3 linked regions of the Homo sapiens genome follow. The protein of the gene in region 3 purifies or fractionates together with the protein of the main gene of each other region. This does not show direct contact. Each region holds a gene or a part of one and is shown on either strand. Other genes may lie near its edges. The genes, in order: TMEM87A, GOLGA5 and KCNK4.

What was found.
Region 1: the proteins of KCNK4 (region 3) and TMEM87A purify together in Homo sapiens (affinity purification with mass spectrometry; one large-scale study listed by BioGRID and IntAct). This does not show direct contact.
Region 2: the proteins of KCNK4 (region 3) and GOLGA5 purify together in Homo sapiens (affinity purification with mass spectrometry; one large-scale study listed by BioGRID and IntAct). This does not show direct contact.

The regions. Positions count from the first base shown.
Region 1 is NC_000015.10:42,228,336-42,232,054, reverse strand, and holds part of TMEM87A (transmembrane protein 87A isoform 1 precursor), read left to right. Parts: intron 1-139; coding exon of another isoform or gene 140-211; intron 212-794; coding exon 795-863; exon of another isoform or gene 864-933; intron 934-3,234; coding exon 3,235-3,343; intron 3,344-3,719. UniProt on the Homo sapiens protein: Potential monoatomic ion channel gated by mechanical force, implicated in normal touch sensitivity through the generation of mechanically activated currents.
Region 2 is NC_000014.9:92,811,305-92,814,804, reverse strand, and holds part of GOLGA5 (golgin subfamily A member 5), read right to left. Parts: intron 3,255-3,500; coding exon 3,051-3,254; intron 1-3,050. UniProt on the Homo sapiens protein: Involved in maintaining Golgi structure. Stimulates the formation of Golgi stacks and ribbons. Involved in intra-Golgi retrograde transport.
Region 3 is NC_000011.10:64,290,135-64,294,292, forward strand, and holds the start of KCNK4 (potassium channel subfamily K member 4), read left to right. Parts: upstream 1-1,167; 5' UTR 1,168-1,432; intron 1,433-1,587; exon of another isoform or gene 1,588-1,651; intron 1,652-1,863; exon of another isoform or gene 1,864-1,984; intron 1,985-2,807; 5' UTR 2,808-2,884; coding exon 2,885-3,073; intron 3,074-4,158. UniProt on the Homo sapiens protein: K(+) channel that conducts voltage-dependent outward rectifying currents upon membrane depolarization. Voltage sensing is coupled to K(+) electrochemical gradient in an 'ion flux gating' mode where outward but not inward ion flow opens the gate.

The sequences.
Region 1 (3,719 bases), on a different chromosome or scaffold from region 3:
AATTGCCTCTTAAATCAAACACTTTGTGGATGCACATTTGCTTTTCAAATCACACTGTCCTCTGTATGTAATTCTCTTAGACTTCTAGCAACTTTAACCCTCTGTCAATTTCATTTTCTTTCTTCTGCTGTTGCTATAGTATTTTTCTTATCCCTTGACTCTGATAGTAAACCTGGCCCTCTCAGCAATTGACGCCTGTGTTATTTTATGGATATCCTTTCAGTAATGCCTGTTGATTGGGTAATTAGGGTTATATAAAAAACATACTCTATATAAACTCCTGGAAACATGCAGCATAGTTTTTCAGACAGATAATTGCCTTACATTTTATTTTGGGGTGAGCTCTTATTTGTAAAATATTATAATTTTAGAAATTAATAATTCTTTGTATATGATGCAGTAATTTTTTTTAAATACGAGAAAAGTCTTTTCAGACTTGTAGCCAAAATTGCAATAATAGGAAATGATAGATTAAGGATGGGGCTTATAAACATTAGAACTTTTTTGGAATATGGTCACTTGTTAACATGGATCTTTATATATGAAAAACTCGTACTTAGCAGTATGTTTCGAGATTGTAAATGACAATTTATGTGAAATGCTTATAGCTGTATATTCTATGTGATGGTTTATAAGAAGGGAAGAATGATTAGGTGTCAAATGTTCTTTTTATTTTCTTTCAGTTCAATGCAAAAACTTTCCAGTGATTATGTAAATGCAGAATCATGTGGTGGTTTCTTCTCTGTGCCTCTCTAGACATCTGTTTTTCACCACTTCTTTTTCTTTGTCTGCAGGCCCAGACTGATCTTGCTTCCTTGGCCTTTATCCCCTTGGCTTTCCTAGACACTGCCTTGTGCTGGTGGATATCCTTCTCATTGGCTTGTTTGATGATGGTCCATTTTCTCCCCTTGAGATGGGTTTCCATTGATCTTTCTGCAAAGAGTTTTTATCAGTTTTGTTAATTACTCCTTAGTGTGGGGAACAGTGCATGCTAAGTCTTAACAACCTGAGGGTTCAGGTAAGCAGTTTTTTTTGTTTCTATTTTTTTAATTTTAAAAATCAAATTGGAAATTGGTGACTGTGGACCGAGCTCGAGATAAAATCTTTTGGCTTTTTTCTTTTAAGTGAGCATTTCATCTTGATTTTGCACTTCTTGTTTGTGTACCTAATCATTTAGTGTTAGAGTCACTGGCTGTGCTGGTCCTGCTCTGCCTTTTAGCCTCTAGCAATTCTTAAATGCTTTGAAACTTATGAAAAGATTTTGATCCTTAAAATTTGATTTCAGGAACTATGTAAGGTGCTTTGACTTTTCTGAAACTCTGTATGTTCAGCAGGTTTTAACCCTTATGGAGTGAGTGTTTTCTTGCCTCATTCAAAAGCTGGCTTGGAATTGTTTGAAGATTTCCACCCTTCAGAATAAATAATTGATTCATTTACAGGCAGAGTCAACCAGCAGATAACAAACAAGCTTCTATTTGAGCAATCTTTTTCTCCTGCTCTTTAAAATTAAATTTATATATTAGGGGCTTGGCCTGATGGCTAAAGGATTCAAGTTTTTGGACTTTATCTTATTGAATTTGTTTTGGTTTTTATATATTTGGTCCTATTAGCAGTTTTCATTATTACTGACCTGATAGATTGTGACTGTTGAAAAACTGTGAATGTAAACAAAATTGTTTTGTGAATTTGAGTGGGTTGCTGTATAAGAGTTTTCAGTTAAAGTGTCCTTGGACTAAATAGCCAAAGCTTTTCTAGATTAGTATCTTTCTAAGTGTTTTGTGAACCTCTGCAAGCGTTGAGAGAAGAGGGAGGTGGGAATGGATTGTACAGTAAGATAACCCAATGACTAGGTAACAGCTACGGCTCTGTAAGGGCAGAGCAAGTGCCAAATCCCTTATTTTTGTATCTGCTTCTCATTCTGAAAATTGAGCCGGGTGCAGTGGCTCATGCCTGTAACCCCAGCACTTTGGGAGGCTGAGATGGGCAGATTGCTTTAAGCTCAGGAGTTTGAGACCAGCCTGGGCAACATGGCGAAGCCCTATCTCTACAAAAAATACAAAAATTCATCAGGCATTGTGGCTTGCACCTGTAGTCCCAGCTGCTCGGGAGCCTGAGGCAGGAGAATTGCTTGAGCCCTGGAAGCGGAGGTTGCAGTGAGCCGAGATCGCACCGCTGCACTCCAGCCTGAGTGACAGAGTGAGACCCTGTCTCAAAAAGAAAAGAACATTGAACGTGAGAGCAGATACCATTTTTAGTAGTCACCAATTCCCCTCCTGTTTTTCTCTGGCAACTTCTACTTGAGAATAATGTTCTGAAAATGGAGAGTCATTGCTTTTGGAAGCAAACCATATGAGCTTCTCAACCAATTGTAAGGTCCTCTTAATTCAGGATAGTGCAGGCAACTGATGGCAGGTTCCTTAAGATGGCATGAGGGGACTGAGTGTAGATCTCTGGGAGATTATAGGCACGAGTATAATTATGACCCTCAACTAGATTTGCTGGACAGATGAGAACAGAGCTACCCACCTTAAAGGGAGAGAGAAGATGATGTTAACTCTTTGTCCCTTGCCTGTTACTCATGTTCACTTTATCTTCTGCCATTTCTCTATTTATTTTCTGTCTTTTTTTTTTGTTTCTCTAGAAAGCCTCTTCCTTTCTCTTTTTTATATTTTTTCTCTTGTGATTTTGTACATTCTTACTTTATTCTGGTTCTGTCTTCTCTTTAATGTCTCATTGAAAATGATGACTTCCGGCCAGGTATGGTGGCTCGTGCCTGTAATGCCAGCACTTTGGGAGGCCAAGGCAGGAGGATCAGTTGAGGTCAGGAGTTTAAGACCAGCCTGAGCAACATAGCGAGACCTTATCTCTACAAAAAAATTTAAAAATTAGCCAGGCATGGTGGCACATGCCTGTAGTCCCAGCTGCTTGGGAGGCTGAGGTGGGAGGATCGCTTGAGCTTCAGTGGTCAAGGCTGCAGTGAGCCGTGATTGTGCCACTGCACTCTAGCCTGGGCTAGACCTTGCCTCACAAAAAAAAAAGGAAAAGAAAATAAAATGATGACTTTCTTATTCATCTTGAGGTGTTTGTGAGATTAAGTGAGAATAAGAGAGCTATAAGGCCTCTGAGAGATCTATAAGTTTATTGGCATGACCCCAGATCCTTAAAGAAACCTGAAAACTAATTGGCTAGCTTACTGTTTTTTCCTGAATGTTGAATTCCTTGACCTGCAAACACATATTTATTAGCCTGACTCAAACAATGAAGCTATTAAAACTTCGGAGGAACATTGTAAAACTCTCTTTGTATCGGCATTTCACCAACACGCTTATTTTGGCAGTGGCAGGTAAGTCTGGGACTTTCTTCTTGGAGTTCAAATGTGATCTGTTTAGAATGGACATTCTTAACCTGAAAGGCCATGGGTGGACATAGAAAGTTTTGTATATTTCACTTGGAAAAGGGTTCTTAGCTCTTGTCAAATTCTCAGAAGGATCTGTGGTTTTTAAAAAGTTGAGAACCATTTATTTTATGTACAGTAGCTGGAAATCAACCTCATATTTCAGCTCTTCATTTATCCCTCTTCTATTTGCATTCTTTCTTGAGGCATTCTTTTTCTTGAGGTTAGTTAGCTTAAGTGCCAGAGAGTACTCCTTTTAGAAGACATTACCACATGTTTGTTTAGTTTTATTAAATAGTTGTAGAATTTTAGGGTGCATTGCTAT
Region 2 (3,500 bases), on a different chromosome or scaffold from region 3:
TGACATGCAAAGACCAGTTTATAAAGTCCTAATTCTAGACTAGGAACAACAAGGACCAGCAGCTTTCACGTTAAATTAAAATATTTTAAAGTCATTCTCCTCCATCAAAAATAATTTTTCCTTTTCTGGGTGGTAGGATTATGGGTTATTTCCATTTCCTTCTTCAAACTTCTTTTGTATTCTTCAAATTTTCTATAATAAACATGATCATTTATAACATTTTAAGATTTTTTTTAATAAAAAACCAGAAACCTCCCAACCTCATTCCCCCATCTAGCTACTGTCCTCATGTCCATGGTCAAGTACCCTGCCTCCATGTCTTCAGCTCCCAGCGCACCCCGGAACTCTCTGTTGAGAGGTCCCCAGGGACCTCCTAGTTGCCAAGTCCAGGAATTTAGCTCGGGACTTGTCACATCAGAGCCGCGTGCTGTGGTTGGTGATCATGCACCACTTGAAACTCTCCCTCTGCTTGGCTTCATTGGATGGCATCAGTCTCCTCCTGGTTCTCTCCAATCTCTGACCACTCACCTTCTCAGTATTTTTCTTTTGCAGGCTATCCTTTTGCCCAATTTGTAAATGCTGATGTTTAAGACTGTGTTTTTAGACCTCAGCCTTTCTCCCCGTTAGGTTACACATCGCTCTTGCCTAAACTTACCTACTCTCCCAACTTACTTCTAATTACCTTTCTAACATTGTCACCTCAATGTTGCATCAATTTTGCATACTTACCATAATTCGTCATACTCTCCTTTAACCCTAACCTGTTCTCTTTCCTGTTTCCCCTTTTATTAACACAAGGAAACATCATTCATACACTTAAACCAAAAACCTGGAGTCATCCTGGATTCCATTTGCCTTTTTCCCCCATCCTTCCAGTTAAATCTCCACATGTCATATATTCTATCTCCCACATATCTCTTAGCTGTCCCCTGCCTGCCATCCTCACTGCCAAAAACTTTGATCAGGTCCTCATTATTTCTTATGATCACCTCTTCACCATCTACATGCCATTGATGCCACCCCTTATCACTTCCATGTTTTCAACAATGTACCGAATACCAGGCACTGTGCTGGGGATACAACGATGAACAAGACAGAGGCCCAAATCTCCCCTAACCTTTTCATCAGGCTGCCACAGTTCTCACACTCAAACCTGACCATGGCTTCTGCCTGCCGTTGAACTTTATGAGTCTTTTGCCTCCCATCTCTGAAGACGTTATGTTCCAGCAGTATGGAACTAGCTGCAGTCCCTTAAATATGCCATGTTCTCTCTGGCCCCCTTGCTCTGGCACAGGTTGTTCTCTCGGAAATCTCTTCCCTATCATGAGTCTTCCTATTCATCTTTCAAGTTTCTCTTTATACCACATCTCCTCAGTCCAGTGATCTTTGACAGCCTCAGGCAAGTTTTAAGGGATTCTTCTCTCAAGCTCCCATTGTACTGCATTAATAACCTTATTACGTCAATTATCTGTTTCTTTCCACTAAGATGAATGTTTTCTTAAAGGAAGAGGACACATCTTTTGAGCTTTGTATCCTCTGTGCCTAGTGAGTAGTTAGGTGCTCAATAAGTAACTTTTCAATGAATTAACAAATTAGGGTGATACAAAAAAGTACTTAGAAAGAAGAGTTTGAGGAGGAGATCAATATGATACTTCATGGAAGTAGCATTAAAAAAAGGTATTCATAGCCATTAGAAGTTTGAGACTAAAGAAAAAAGGTAAAGTCAAAAATGACCCTGAGGTTTCAAGCTTTACTGCCACATGGCAGTAACGTTGACCAGAACAGAAGAATGAGGGAGAAGTTGGTCTGGGAGCTGAACACTCCATGCCTGCACAGTAGGCAGCTGGGCACTGAGGTCAGGAGGTCAGGCTTGGAAACATGCTTGAAGTCATATGCAGGCGGCTATTAGAAGCAGAGGCAGCATACAGCAGTGCAAGGTAAGAAAGGACAATGAAAGAGGGTTCAGGACAGAGCTTAGGAGGACTCTGACTCTTTGGAGATTGGGAAGAGCGCCCAAGAGAGACAGAAACAGCAGTAGAAGAGGACAAAAAGAGAGCCAAGGAGATGTGAATAGCATAGAAGGCAGGAGTTCCAAGGAAGTGGGAGGGTTAACAGAGCCAAATGTTCTACCAAAATACAAGGTATGGAGACTAAGAAAAGGACAGAGAATATTTATTTAGGTCATCAAATATTTTTGAGAAGAAATTTCAGACATGTAGTAGGAAAAGAAGGAGATAAGAGTTAACAAGTTCTACAGAAATGAAGACAGCACGTACACAATTCTGGTAAGCATGACACTGAAAGAAAGGAAGATAGGGAAATAGTGCAAAGTGGTCACAAAGCTAAAAGAGACTGTTTTTCTCTTAGGCAGGAGTCCGAGATCTAGTCTTCATTTTTCCACTAAATAACCATGTGCTCTTGAGTAAGCTGAGCCAGAAGGCAGCAGCAGCAGAGAGGCACACACAGGAAGGAAGGGCATAGATCTATGGAGAAAGGGCTTACACATGAGATGGGAGATGGAATCAATGCACAGGCAGGAAAATGATCCTAGAAAAAAATGAAAGGACATGTTTTCCCTCTGAGGGACAAAGGAAAGAGAATTCAAAAACGACATTAGATGACTGTAGTCTTTCTTAGTAAAGTAGAGGGTAAGATCACCTTAGATCTGAAGGAGGGGAAAAAAAGCTGGGTGAGACAATTCTGAGAACTGGATGAGTCCTAAAGCAGTTGCTGCAAAAATTCAATAGGAGATCAACAAGGAAGAATAAACAGCTGCTCAACAACAAGCATTAATATCATCACAGTGAGTAAGGTGACAGGTTGAAGACCTGAACTAGGCAGTGGCAGAATGAATTTTTTTTTTAAAAGAAGTGGTAGGAACAAGAAACACTGCATCCTTTAATAAAATTTCTAAAGTAGAGTAAGGCACCTAAAGCTAGCCAATCAGACGAACATGAACAAAGCACCTCACACAGTATCTACACAGTCTCAAATTGCCTTTCAGTTAACTTGCACATCTTAACATCCAAAAGTGTACATTTCATGCTTACTTGCAGTATTCTAGTAGCTTTTTGCTTGTAGTCAATTAATTCCTGCTTAGAGGACTCCAAGTTCAACTTATACAGCTTGACTTGCTGCTGCAGTTCATCAACCCTCTTCTTCTCATCTGAGTATTTTCTTTCGGCCAGTGTAATTGCTTCTGCTAAATTCTGACGTTCCATTTCCACTTTATTAAGGCGTGCAGCAAACTCGCTCTGTGACAAATTTTTATATCATAATTAATGATATCATTTAGCTTTGAAACATATTTTACAACCATCCATTCGGATATCTTATGGGATTTATTAGCTCAGCCAAACAACATAGTAGGGATGGGAAAAAATTCTTAATTTGTTAGGAGCTAAAGTATAGGAAATGTAAAGTTGTAACTCCCAAACATGGCAATGCATTAAAATCAACCAGGAAGTTTGTTAAAAATATAGCCATCCAAGGCCTTTCCC
Region 3 (4,158 bases):
CAGCTTCCCAAAGTGCTGGGATTACAGGCATGAGGTACCATGCCTGGCAGCTTCTGAGTCTTAACCCCAATGGATTAGACTTTCTGGAGGCCCTGTTTCCCTATCACCACCCCAACCTGGTCTTTAGGAGTCAGGAGTTAGTCCAGGGCTTGCTGGGGAGTTGGCGCAGTGACTGAGCAGCCCCCATCTTCCTACCAGGGCGTGGGTTTGCCCAGATGTACAGGTGGTCCCCTAGCTATGCCCTCCCGTTAGCCCTCTTCTCCACTGTCCTTAGTAGCATAGTCACTGCCCTCTGCTTCCATGGCCCTGGCAGGTCTGTCTGATGGCTAGGAGTCCTTTGCTGGAGGGTCTGTCCCCTGCCCACATAGGTGGTTGTCCCAGCTTTTCAGAGTTCCCTTGGCTTATCACTGGGCCTGCTTCAAAACCCTTTACTTGGGACCATCCTGGGCACCAGGCCCTCAGGGCCTCCAGAGAGGGCATCTGAGACTCATAGAGAATCAGCTTGAAGCTGGACAATCACTTTTTGTTGAAATAAAAACTGCTAACGTTTGTGGGGCACTTTATTGTGTGTGCCAGGCTCTGTTTTGAGGATTTCTAAACACTGGCCTCCTTAATGCCCAGAACAGCACCCCGAAGTGATGATTAATCATCCCTTTTCTGTAAGTGGGAACAGGGAGACTCCAGAGTTTGGTAACCTGTTCAGGTTCCCTACCAGTAGCGGGTGGTCAGCCTCAAAGCCCAGGCTGAAAGCCATCCAGCATGAGGGCTGAGGACCCCAGCAGGCACCAGAGGGTCTTTGGAGAGGTCACAGGTTGTCAAGTGGGTGAGAACAGGGCGGGGCAAGTTCAGGACCAGCCAGGGCCTGGGTGTTCAGGCAGTGGGAGAGTGGATGCTGGCACCAGTGCCATGCTGGGATCTGCAGGCAGCTTCAGCCACAGCCTTCCGGGGCTGATTTCTGGGCATGGAAGTGAGAACCAAAAGCTGGGGCAGGGAGCACCCTGGAGGGATAGCCGGGGAGCAGGTAGAGGGCCAAAACCTGGAGTGGGGGCAGGAGGTGCTCCAGCAGCAACTCCCCCAGAGGTGGGTCCCAACCTCCACGTCGGCCAATTCCAGGTGGCCCCACCGGGTTTCCCCCACCCCTTTGTCCCGCGGAGCCCCTCCCTCATGAGTGCTGAGCCCAAGGGCCAGGCTGTCCCCAGGGGCGGAGAGTTGCGGACCCTTCCCGATCCGGTAATGGGCCTGGGAGATGCCAGATTAGCGTGGTGCCTGTCCGGAGAGACGGGCCAGCTGATGCCCAGGTCGGGGCCCTGCCGCTGGCCACACTGGGCTCCGGTCCAAGGCTAGAAGGCTGGCCCCTGCTGCAACCCCTCTCCGGCTCCTCTGCCACCCACCTCCCGGGGCTGGCCGGCTGTGGGGAGCCAGGCGGCCGCAGGTAAACGGCTTGGGGCGGCGCCGGCGGCGAGGGCGCTGCACGGAGGGAAGCGCGGCGCCGGAGGGGTTAACCGCGGGAGGAGGGGGGCTTCTGCCGGCGGGAGGGGGGTCCCAGCCCCGGCGGCCGCCCGCTCCGCCCCTGCCGCCTCCGCGGCCCAGTCGGCACCGGCGAGGCCGTGCTGGAACCCGGGCCTCAGCCGCAGCCGCAGCGGGGCCGACAGTAAGTGCGGTGCGGGCTCCGGTGCGCGGGCAGGACTCAGGGGCAGGGACGCCCCAGGGGCGACTGGCCGGGCGGGGTGCCCACCTCTCGCGCGTGGGCGCCTCCGGGAGTGGTGTGGCCGCCGGTCCCGCCGCCCGCCACGCTCCGAGGCGTCGCTGTGCGGACGCGGGGGAGGCGGTGGGAGCGAGCTGCGGGCGCTGCGCGGTGGCCCTGCTGTCTGGCGTGTGCACGCTAGTGTCCACACACGTGTGCGTGGGCTCTGGGTGCCCTGGCGCGGCCGGCACGCCCATGGGGGCCGGGGATGCCGGGGCGTCTGCGGAGAGTGCAGGTGGGGTGCGTGCGTGCAGCGGGGCGGCGCGGCGCTGCAGCCTCGGGATGGAGCGTGGGCGCGCGGGTCTTTGTGCCCGCGCTTGGCGGCGCGTGCCGGGGCGTGTGTGCGCGTGGGCGCCGCCGCCCGCTGTCTCGGACTGACAGCTGTCTCGGGGGCTGTCGCCCCGGTGTGGCCTTTGCGGACCCCCGCCCCGCTTTTTCCGGGAACTGGGCGTCCCCAGCACCCCTCCTCGCCTGGGTGCGGCGGCCGGGACCCGCCCCTGGGTTCCTCGAAAGCCCGGCGGGGCGCGGGGGCACCCTGGAGGGCCAGCCAGGAAGCAGGGCGAGGCGAGAGGGGACGGAGAAGCCGCGGAGATGCTGTCACAGCCGCAGCGGGCGAGCAGGGACCCACCATTCCCCTGTCCCCGCCTTGCGCTGTCCGGCCTCTCCTCCGGGTTTCCCTTCGGACGCCTCCGAGCCCCCTCAGCCTCCTCCTCGAGGGCCAGCTCCCCGCACCCCCACCAAGCTCCACACATTTCCTCGCTCGCCCCGCTTCCCCCTAGGCAGGCTTAGGCTCTCTTTCGGCCTCCCACTCGCCTTCCTTTCCCTTCTCGGTGCCCTCCTCTCTTTCCTCACCCGGTAGTCCCAGACAGGGGCTGAGGGCCGGGCAGCGGAGGTAAGGGGAAGGCTGGAGATAGGAGGGGGACTGGGTGTGTCCAGCCAGAGGGATGTCTGTGGACAGTGCAGCTGGGGGCTTTATGGATCTTTGGGTGTGTAGGGGATAGAGGAGGAGGGTGTGGGTGTCAGGCCAGCTCAGTGACCCCAGCATCCCTGGTTTTGCCCGCAGTGACGACAGCTCCCCAGGAGCCCCCCGCCCGGCCCCTCCAGGCGGGCAGTGGAGCTGGCCCGGCGCCTGGGCGCGCCATGCGCAGCACCACGCTCCTGGCCCTGCTGGCGCTGGTCTTGCTTTACTTGGTGTCTGGTGCCCTGGTGTTCCGGGCCCTGGAGCAGCCCCACGAGCAGCAGGCCCAGAGGGAGCTGGGGGAGGTCCGAGAGAAGTTCCTGAGGGCCCATCCGTGTGTGAGCGACCAGGAGCTGGGCCTCCTCATCAAGGTGCGTGGGTGGGCCGCAGCCCCTTCAGCTGTCACCCATCACCCCTGGCGCTAGCTGTGTGCCAGTGAGGCCCTGTGCCAGTGCTGCTTTCAGATCAGTATCCCTGAGGACGGGTGCAGTGGGAGGCTGTGGGACAGAGGCTGGGGACCAGGTCTCTGTGTTTTCAATAGGGCAACTGTGGGGTCATTTGTTTTCCTGGAGAGCCTGGCACAGGACTGTGCACCTATAATGTCTCCTTCAGGGTGTGATGGTGGTGGGATGAGGGGGAAATGAATGAATGAATGAATGGCCATAGCGCATGGGCTATGTTACATTTGCACAGGTCTCACTCACCGGTCTAGATTGCCACACAAAATCCAAGACTCTCATTTAAACATGAATTACAGTTAAACTGCAAATGCCTTTTTTTTTGAGACGGAGTCTCCCTGTGTCACCCAGGCTGGAGTGCAGTGGTGTGATCTCAGCTCACAGCAACCTCCGCCTCCCAGACTCAAGTGATTCTCCTGCCTCAGCCTCCCAAGCAGCTGGTATTACAGGGATTCATCACCACACCCGGCTAAATTTTGTGTTTTTAGTAGAGATGGGGTTTCACCATGTTGGCCAGGCTGGTCTCAAACTCCTGACCTCAAGTGATCCACCCGCCTCGGCCTCCCAAAGTGCTGGGATTGCAGACATGAGCCACCACACCTGGCCCACAAATGCCTTTTTAATACAAGTCCATCCCAAGCAATATTTTTGTTTGCTAAATCTGGCAACCCTACCTACACCGGTTCCCATACTTTTCTTGGAGTCATGTGCCTTAGAAAAGCCCAAGAACATGGTGAACACACCCCCTCCCCCTGGAAAAGTGTGCATATGAACATGTGCAGGTGATTTGGGAGGGTTCCAGGATCCATGCCACCAGGAATGCCAGGTCAGGTGCCCCTTCCCCCAGCATGCATGCTTACCATGTGGGGAGAAGGGGGGGTGCGTCAGGGTTCCCTGAGGCACTTCTGGTCAGACTCCAACCATAGACTCAAGAAAGTGTTGGCCGGGCACGGTGGCTTATGCCTGTAATCCTAGCACTTTGGAAGGCTGAGGTGGGT